Regions from separate parts of the Homo sapiens genome. Here region 1 is linked to region 2. The links come from fine-mapping of genetic effects on gene expression. A gene starts in region 2. The other region holds a variant in brackets. All regions are shown on one strand. Distances are from middle to middle. Region 1 overlaps LOC105369322 (a long non-coding RNA gene). Region 2 holds the start of CCDC86 (coiled-coil domain containing 86).

Evidence for each region. PIP is the estimated chance that this variant, and not a neighbour inherited with it, causes the effect. A credible set is the group of variants that fine-mapping cannot tell apart.
Region 1: its variant is the best candidate, but not a certain one, in a credible set for the expression of CCDC86 in whole blood (INTERVAL, PIP 0.62).

Annotation. Positions count from the first base shown.
Region 1 is chr11:60,820,470-60,823,369 of GRCh38, reverse strand. The region is part of intron 2 of LOC105369322 (a long non-coding RNA gene); the gene reads left to right. Among named protein-coding and RNA genes, the nearest start is that of CCDC86, 20 kb to the left of the region's middle. The variant A/C (reference allele first, on the strand shown) is at 1,344.
Region 2 is chr11:60,840,801-60,843,700 of GRCh38, reverse strand. CCDC86 (coiled-coil domain containing 86) reads right to left here and starts at 1,588. Exons shown (of 4, transcript NM_024098.4): 1 at 819-1,588. The coding sequence starts at 1,576. CCDC86-AS1 (CCDC86 antisense RNA 1) reads left to right here. Exons shown (of 2, transcript NR_182293.1): 2 at 1,721-1,895. RefSeq lists enhancers at 1,163-1,392, 1,299-2,498.

The DNA.
Region 1 (2,900 bases), 20 kb after region 2:
TTATTTATTTATTTATTTATTTATTTTTATTTTTAATTTTTTTTTTGAGATGGAGTCTCCCTCTTGCTCTGTCGCCAGGCTGGAGTGCAGTGGCGCAATCTCGTCTCACTGCAACCTCTGCCTCCCAGGTTCAAGCGATTCTCCTGCCTCAGCCTCCTAAGTAGCTGAGACTACAGGTCTGTGTCACCATGCCCAGCTAATTTTTATATTTTTAGTAGAGATGGAGTTTCTCCATGTTGGCCAGGATGGTCTTGATCTCTTGACCTCGTGATCCTGCCCGCCTCGGCCTGCCAAAGTGCTGGGATTACAGGCGTGAGTCACCATGCCTGGCCTGCATTTTTTTTTTTAAGAGACAGGGTCTTGCTCTCTGGCCCAGGCTGGAATGCAGTGGCACCATCATAGCTCACTGCAGCCTCCAACTCCTGGGCTCAAGTGAACCTCCTGCCTCAGCCTCCTGAGTAGCTGGGACTACAGGTATGTACCACCATACCCAGCTAGTTTTCCTTTTTAATTTTTTTTTCCTTTTTTATATCTTGTTGCATATCAACATTTTTTATTTTTAGTAGAGACAAGGTCGTGCTATGTTGCTCAGGTGTTCTCAAACTCCTTGCCTCAAGAGATCCTCCCCTCAGCCTCCCAAAGCTCTGGGATTGCAGGCTTGAGCCACTGGAGCTGGCCTGAGACTCTGCATTTCTAACAAGCTCCCAGGTGATGCCAAAGATGCTGGTCTCTGGCCCATGCTTGGAGGTGGGAGGGACTAGTCTCTCATTTTGAAGATGGAGAAACTAAGACTGAGAGAAGGAGGCAACCTGCCTAAGTCACAGGGCTGCTAAGTGATAGATCTGGATCTAGAAATCAAGTCCCAGGGGCTTTTGTTTCATTGTAGTGGCTGAGCGCCTTGACTTGAGTGTTACCCTCGGGGTAAGTCCCCAGGGACACCACCTTTCTCCTTCCTCGGCTGCATATATTGGGGCAGAGGCCCTTTGCCACGACTCCCCCCACCACACGCTGTGAACCAGCTTCAGCTCTTTAGCTGGCCGCCTCAACAGCCCAGTGCCTCCCCTGGGCCATCCAATCCCATGTGGGGTGGGCCTGGAACTTCCCCTCGAGCTCAGAACAGTTCCACCCCCTGCAGCTTCACTCCCACTTCACAGACTCAAACTCCCTCCCAAGGGTGCAGGGAGGATCTGCAGTCCTGGTCTTTGCAGTCCTCTCTGTCTCTGGGCCACCACCAAGTGGGATCTCCAGGGTCCTCAGGAGCACTCCTCCTGCCAGCGGGTACAAGTAAGTGGTGGGGAACTCGGTGGAGCTCGAGGAGGCAGCCAGGATGCGGCCCGCCCCCC[A/C]ACCTGCCAGCCACCAGTTGCCAGCAGCTGATAATGATCTGCAGGGCCTGGGGGTGGAGGGGGGAGGGCGCAGAGCTAAAGCCTTGGGCTTTCGGGGTTGGGGCTGTGTCTCCCAGGACTTGAGTGGCTGGGCAGGTCTCTGTGCACATGTCTCTGCCGAAAAGGATCTTAGACAAACTCCCCATCCACCTCCTTCCTTGGCAGCCAAGAAAACAGAGGCCTGGAGAGAATAAGAACCTTGCCAACTTCCCCAGCCAGTGAGGGCAGGCGCAGAACCAGGCCTCTTCGTCCCAGGGGCACCGCAGGATTGCAGAACCCTAGAAAGCTTGGGTGAGGGCCATCTCAGGCATCAAGCCCAACACATTGGTTACCTCCAAGGTGCTGGCCCTGAGTGCACCGAGCTTGCTCTGTGCACCAAGTCATTTAGCTCTCACCACACCCATGAATGGAGCAGCACCCTGCTCATGGCATTCTAGGGACGAAGCTGGGGTCTCAGAGTGGGATCGGAGCCTGCCTCTGCCCATGTTCCCTAAGCCTCCATACCGCACATGCAAGCCTGTCCTTCCAGGGCACAGGGTTGACTCAGCCTAGGCTGAAGCCCAGAAGTTTGCGATCATTTGTCTCAAATAGGCTTCTCTGACCTGAGAGCAGCACTTTGACCTCACCCTCAACACTCCACCTCTCTGTCACCCAAGAGGAGTAGCTTCTCCCAGCAGGCTCCGCTCCTCCCATCGTTTCGTGCTCAACGGCAAGGTAAAAGAGACCTCATTTTCAAAACTGGGACCCAGAGCCACACATGCAGAGAACGGAGGAGCTAGGATTCCAGTGCCTGGCTGGGCCCATACTCTCTGCTCAGCTGCCCACATTGACATCAGCGGGAGACAGGCACAGACTTCTGCCCACACGTGCTGGTCTCACCACTGACCAAGACCCAATCAGCTACAATGAGGAGAGCCTTGATGCAGGGGTGCGGCATCAGAAAAGGAAAGCTCCCGGTTCACCCCAGAGTTGCCTTAGAGCGATGGTACCCAGCTCCTGGGGCCTGGCAAGGGGGACATAGGTTTGCTCTCGTATCCTGGATTCAAGCAGTGCTTTCCAGGGCAGTGGCAGCCCCAGCCCTTTGCTGCTAATTTTCAGGGCTGGAGGCCAGGAAGGAAAACCCCAGCAGCTCTGTCTTGCCTCCCTGCTGCTCCACAGTCCCTCCACTGGTATGTACCCTTGGCCCCATAAATTCTACTGACTGCATCACTGTTGGGATTGGCAGTGGCTGCACAGGTCTGTGGAGACTGGGTGATCCACTTACTCCCAAGATGGTTGGCTGTCCCCGGAAAAAGAGCTTCTCTCTGCTGGGGTGGGCATTGCCCAGGGTCTCAGCCTACCAGGATGGCTCCTCTGGGCTCTGCCATGGCACCCCTGAGTTTTCAGAAGGAGGGAGCCTCACTAATTGCTGCTGCCCTGTCAGCTGGCTTCAGAAGGCAGGTGGGCTGTGGGCTGGGCTGCCTCATGTCTCCTGGAGGGAGCTGGAGCCTGGGTCTTGCTTTTGACATTTCAGACACC
Region 2 (2,900 bases):
TGGCAGCCTACACTCTTCCTTCTTCAGATGAGCTACTTCGTTCCTTCATTAAATAAGCATTCATTGGGCATTTACTATGCCCTTGGCACAGAAAGACAAGAAAGATCTCGTGCCTGCCCCTTAAGAAGGTCGCAATCCAATTCAAGGTGGATCTACAGGGATTGGGTAAAGGGGTTTTTTGCACACAGGCTTCGGAATCAGATCTGTGCTCAGGTCCTGTGCCTACCACTCATTTAGCCTTGGTTTCCTCACACAAAAAACAGGAATAATAACACCGCCTGCTTCACAGGGCTGACGTGCAGATTAAGCGTGATGACACATGCTGTTCCATGTTTGAAAGGCTGTTGACTGGTAAATCCTTATTAAGGCTGTTGACTGGTAAATCCTTATATAATCAGTGCTCAGTAATACTTTTTATCTTAAAGGCAAATAACTGTAATAGACTATATTGGATGAAGACCTCACTGCTTTGATCAAGTAATGGCTGGTTTACTTGCTTCTGCTTCTCTCACTAGAGAGGGCAGACAACGGTAAATGTCTGTTGAACGAATACAGACCTGAGGTGCTACAGGAGAGGCCCATAGGGACCCTGAGGAGGAAAGGCATCAGAGAAATTGATCTTTGAGGGCCTGGCCCCACCCTCTCCGGGATCCCAGGGCATTTTACCACATTCTGATTGTAATTACCTGTTTGCTAACATCCCCACTAACGTGAGCTCTCTCTAACCCTGGGGCTATTCTCCAGGCTGCAGCAGGGCAAAGGCGGGGTCCCAACACCATAGAGAACGCCACCCCTGTCCATGCTGTCCCCCACTTCACCTTTTCTTGGAGCGGTCCTTCCACACTCGCCCCGATTTGGGCTTCCCCTTCGGGATTACAGGAAGCTCCTCTTTATTCAACTTCTTGGACGCTGGGGCCTGGGATGAAGAACCTTTTCGCTTCTTTGCCCCGAAGCCGCCTGTCACCGTCTCCCCAGCTGGAGGTGGCTTGCTCGGCTCATGCTGACCCCGGGGGGAGCCAGGTGCCCTGGGTGTCAGCTCCAGTAGTGGCTGAGAGGGCTCCGGACCGGGAGCTTGCTGACCGGGGTAAGGCTCTGGTGATCCTGGGACCGGCGGTAGCTGATGCTGGGGGGCCCCCGGGGTCAGCTCCTCCTTATTCTGGGCCAACTCCGAGGCCAGTACTCCCTGGTCCTGAGAACACTTTGGTGCCTCCTCACTTGGCTTCGGCTGACATCGTGGGGATTCAGGACTGTACTCTGGCTGTCTTTGAGGCGACTCCAGGTGTAGGTCTTGCTGACGCTGGGGGGACGCTGCGCCTGGCTCTGGCTGCCCTTGGGGTGACTCCAAGCCTGCACCCTGCTGCAGACGGGGTGATCCTGGGCTTGTCTTCGGCGGCCTTTCGGGGGACCCCAGGCCAGCCCGCTGCACACTCGGAGGAGACCCGGGCTCCCTCGTTTCTTCTGGGTTCGACTCGAACTCCACAAGGGCCCGTCTCGTCCGCGAAACTGAGGTGAGGCTCTCGGGGGATTCGGGCCTTAGGCCTCCCAGCCGTCGGCTGCGCCTTAACGGTGTATCCATGGCTCAGCCGGTAAGTTTCCACACCCCTGCGCACGTGCAGCCCCCGCCGAAACCGGCGCCTTCCTATGACGTCAGGAGTCGCCGCGTCCGTGACGCACAGGAGGGGGGCTGTTGCTGAGGCGGCCATGTTGGTGAGGGGTGGAGAGGCGGGACCGGGGTTGGGGAGAGTGGGGCTCAGCATGCGCATGCGCAATTCGCGCGAGCGCAGTCAACATGTGATTGATGAGCCAGTCTTTTTCCTGGGATTCGCTTTTGCCTTTCTTGCAAAGTTTCCTGGGGAAAGAAGAGCGAGCAAGTAGAAAAGGGAAAGTGGGAGGACCCATTTCAGGGAGAGAACAGAGTCGAAAAAAGGTCCGAGGAGCCCATAGGCAAGGCCCAGTGGATGTTTTGCAGCCAACTCCGGTGCAGTTGGGCAGAGTCCTGCCCTCCTTGGGCCTGTTTTCTCATTTGTAATAGGGGTCATTTTGCACTAGCTTCGTGCATCCCAAATGATCCTGTCAGAGTCCTCCTCCCACCTACCTGAGGGACTGCTACCTGGGGGTCCTGGAGGTGGAAGATCGGTCTTTTCTGTGTTAATTGTTCACACTCTTGATTCTTCCGTCCTGTGCTTCCGTATATAATCCATAGCTCTCCCTCCCTTTTCAGCGTTTTCAACGTTTGTGAGGGAAGTTGAGGTACCAATAAGATGCACCACCTTTGTCCTGTGGCTCACCTGGGCCCTCGACCAGCTGCATATCCTCCCACGTCCCTCTTCTTCTACCCCAGTTCTAGAAACGGGTTGGATCATCTCCGATCTTCCTTTCAGCCCAGACAGTGGTTTTTGCTCGTGTGTGAACCTGCTTCGCCTCCCCTCCCTTCCCTTGCTATTCACCTGTAAATGTACTTTGCTTACTAAGCACTTTGGGACCTCACCAGTGAGCAGGTGTTGACTTCTGGACCTCCCAAGGCCTAGAGAAGACTCTCGGGATGTGGGGTTGGGGAATGTGGGGCTGTGGAGACTTTCGTGTGAGACCTAGGAGTGGGGCTTTGATTTACTTACAGCATGCTTCTTAGGAAGAACATCTTGGAAGTGGCCCAGTTGTGTAATTCTTGGAACTGCCTGGGGTTGGCCATTAAAGGTCCCAGGGCCCCGTCTGACATTCCAGTGGTTTCTTTTAGAAACCATTGTTTCTCCAGCTGCGGGCTTGTGAGAGGGCCTGGGAAATTGTCCAAGAATATCAGGGATCAGAGTGTCCTCATCTTCCTCATGTTCCTGAGTCAAGGAGACCCCTGCAGGGGGGCTTTGCCTGCCTCACTGCTCCTCTCCGGCCATGCAGCTGTCCAC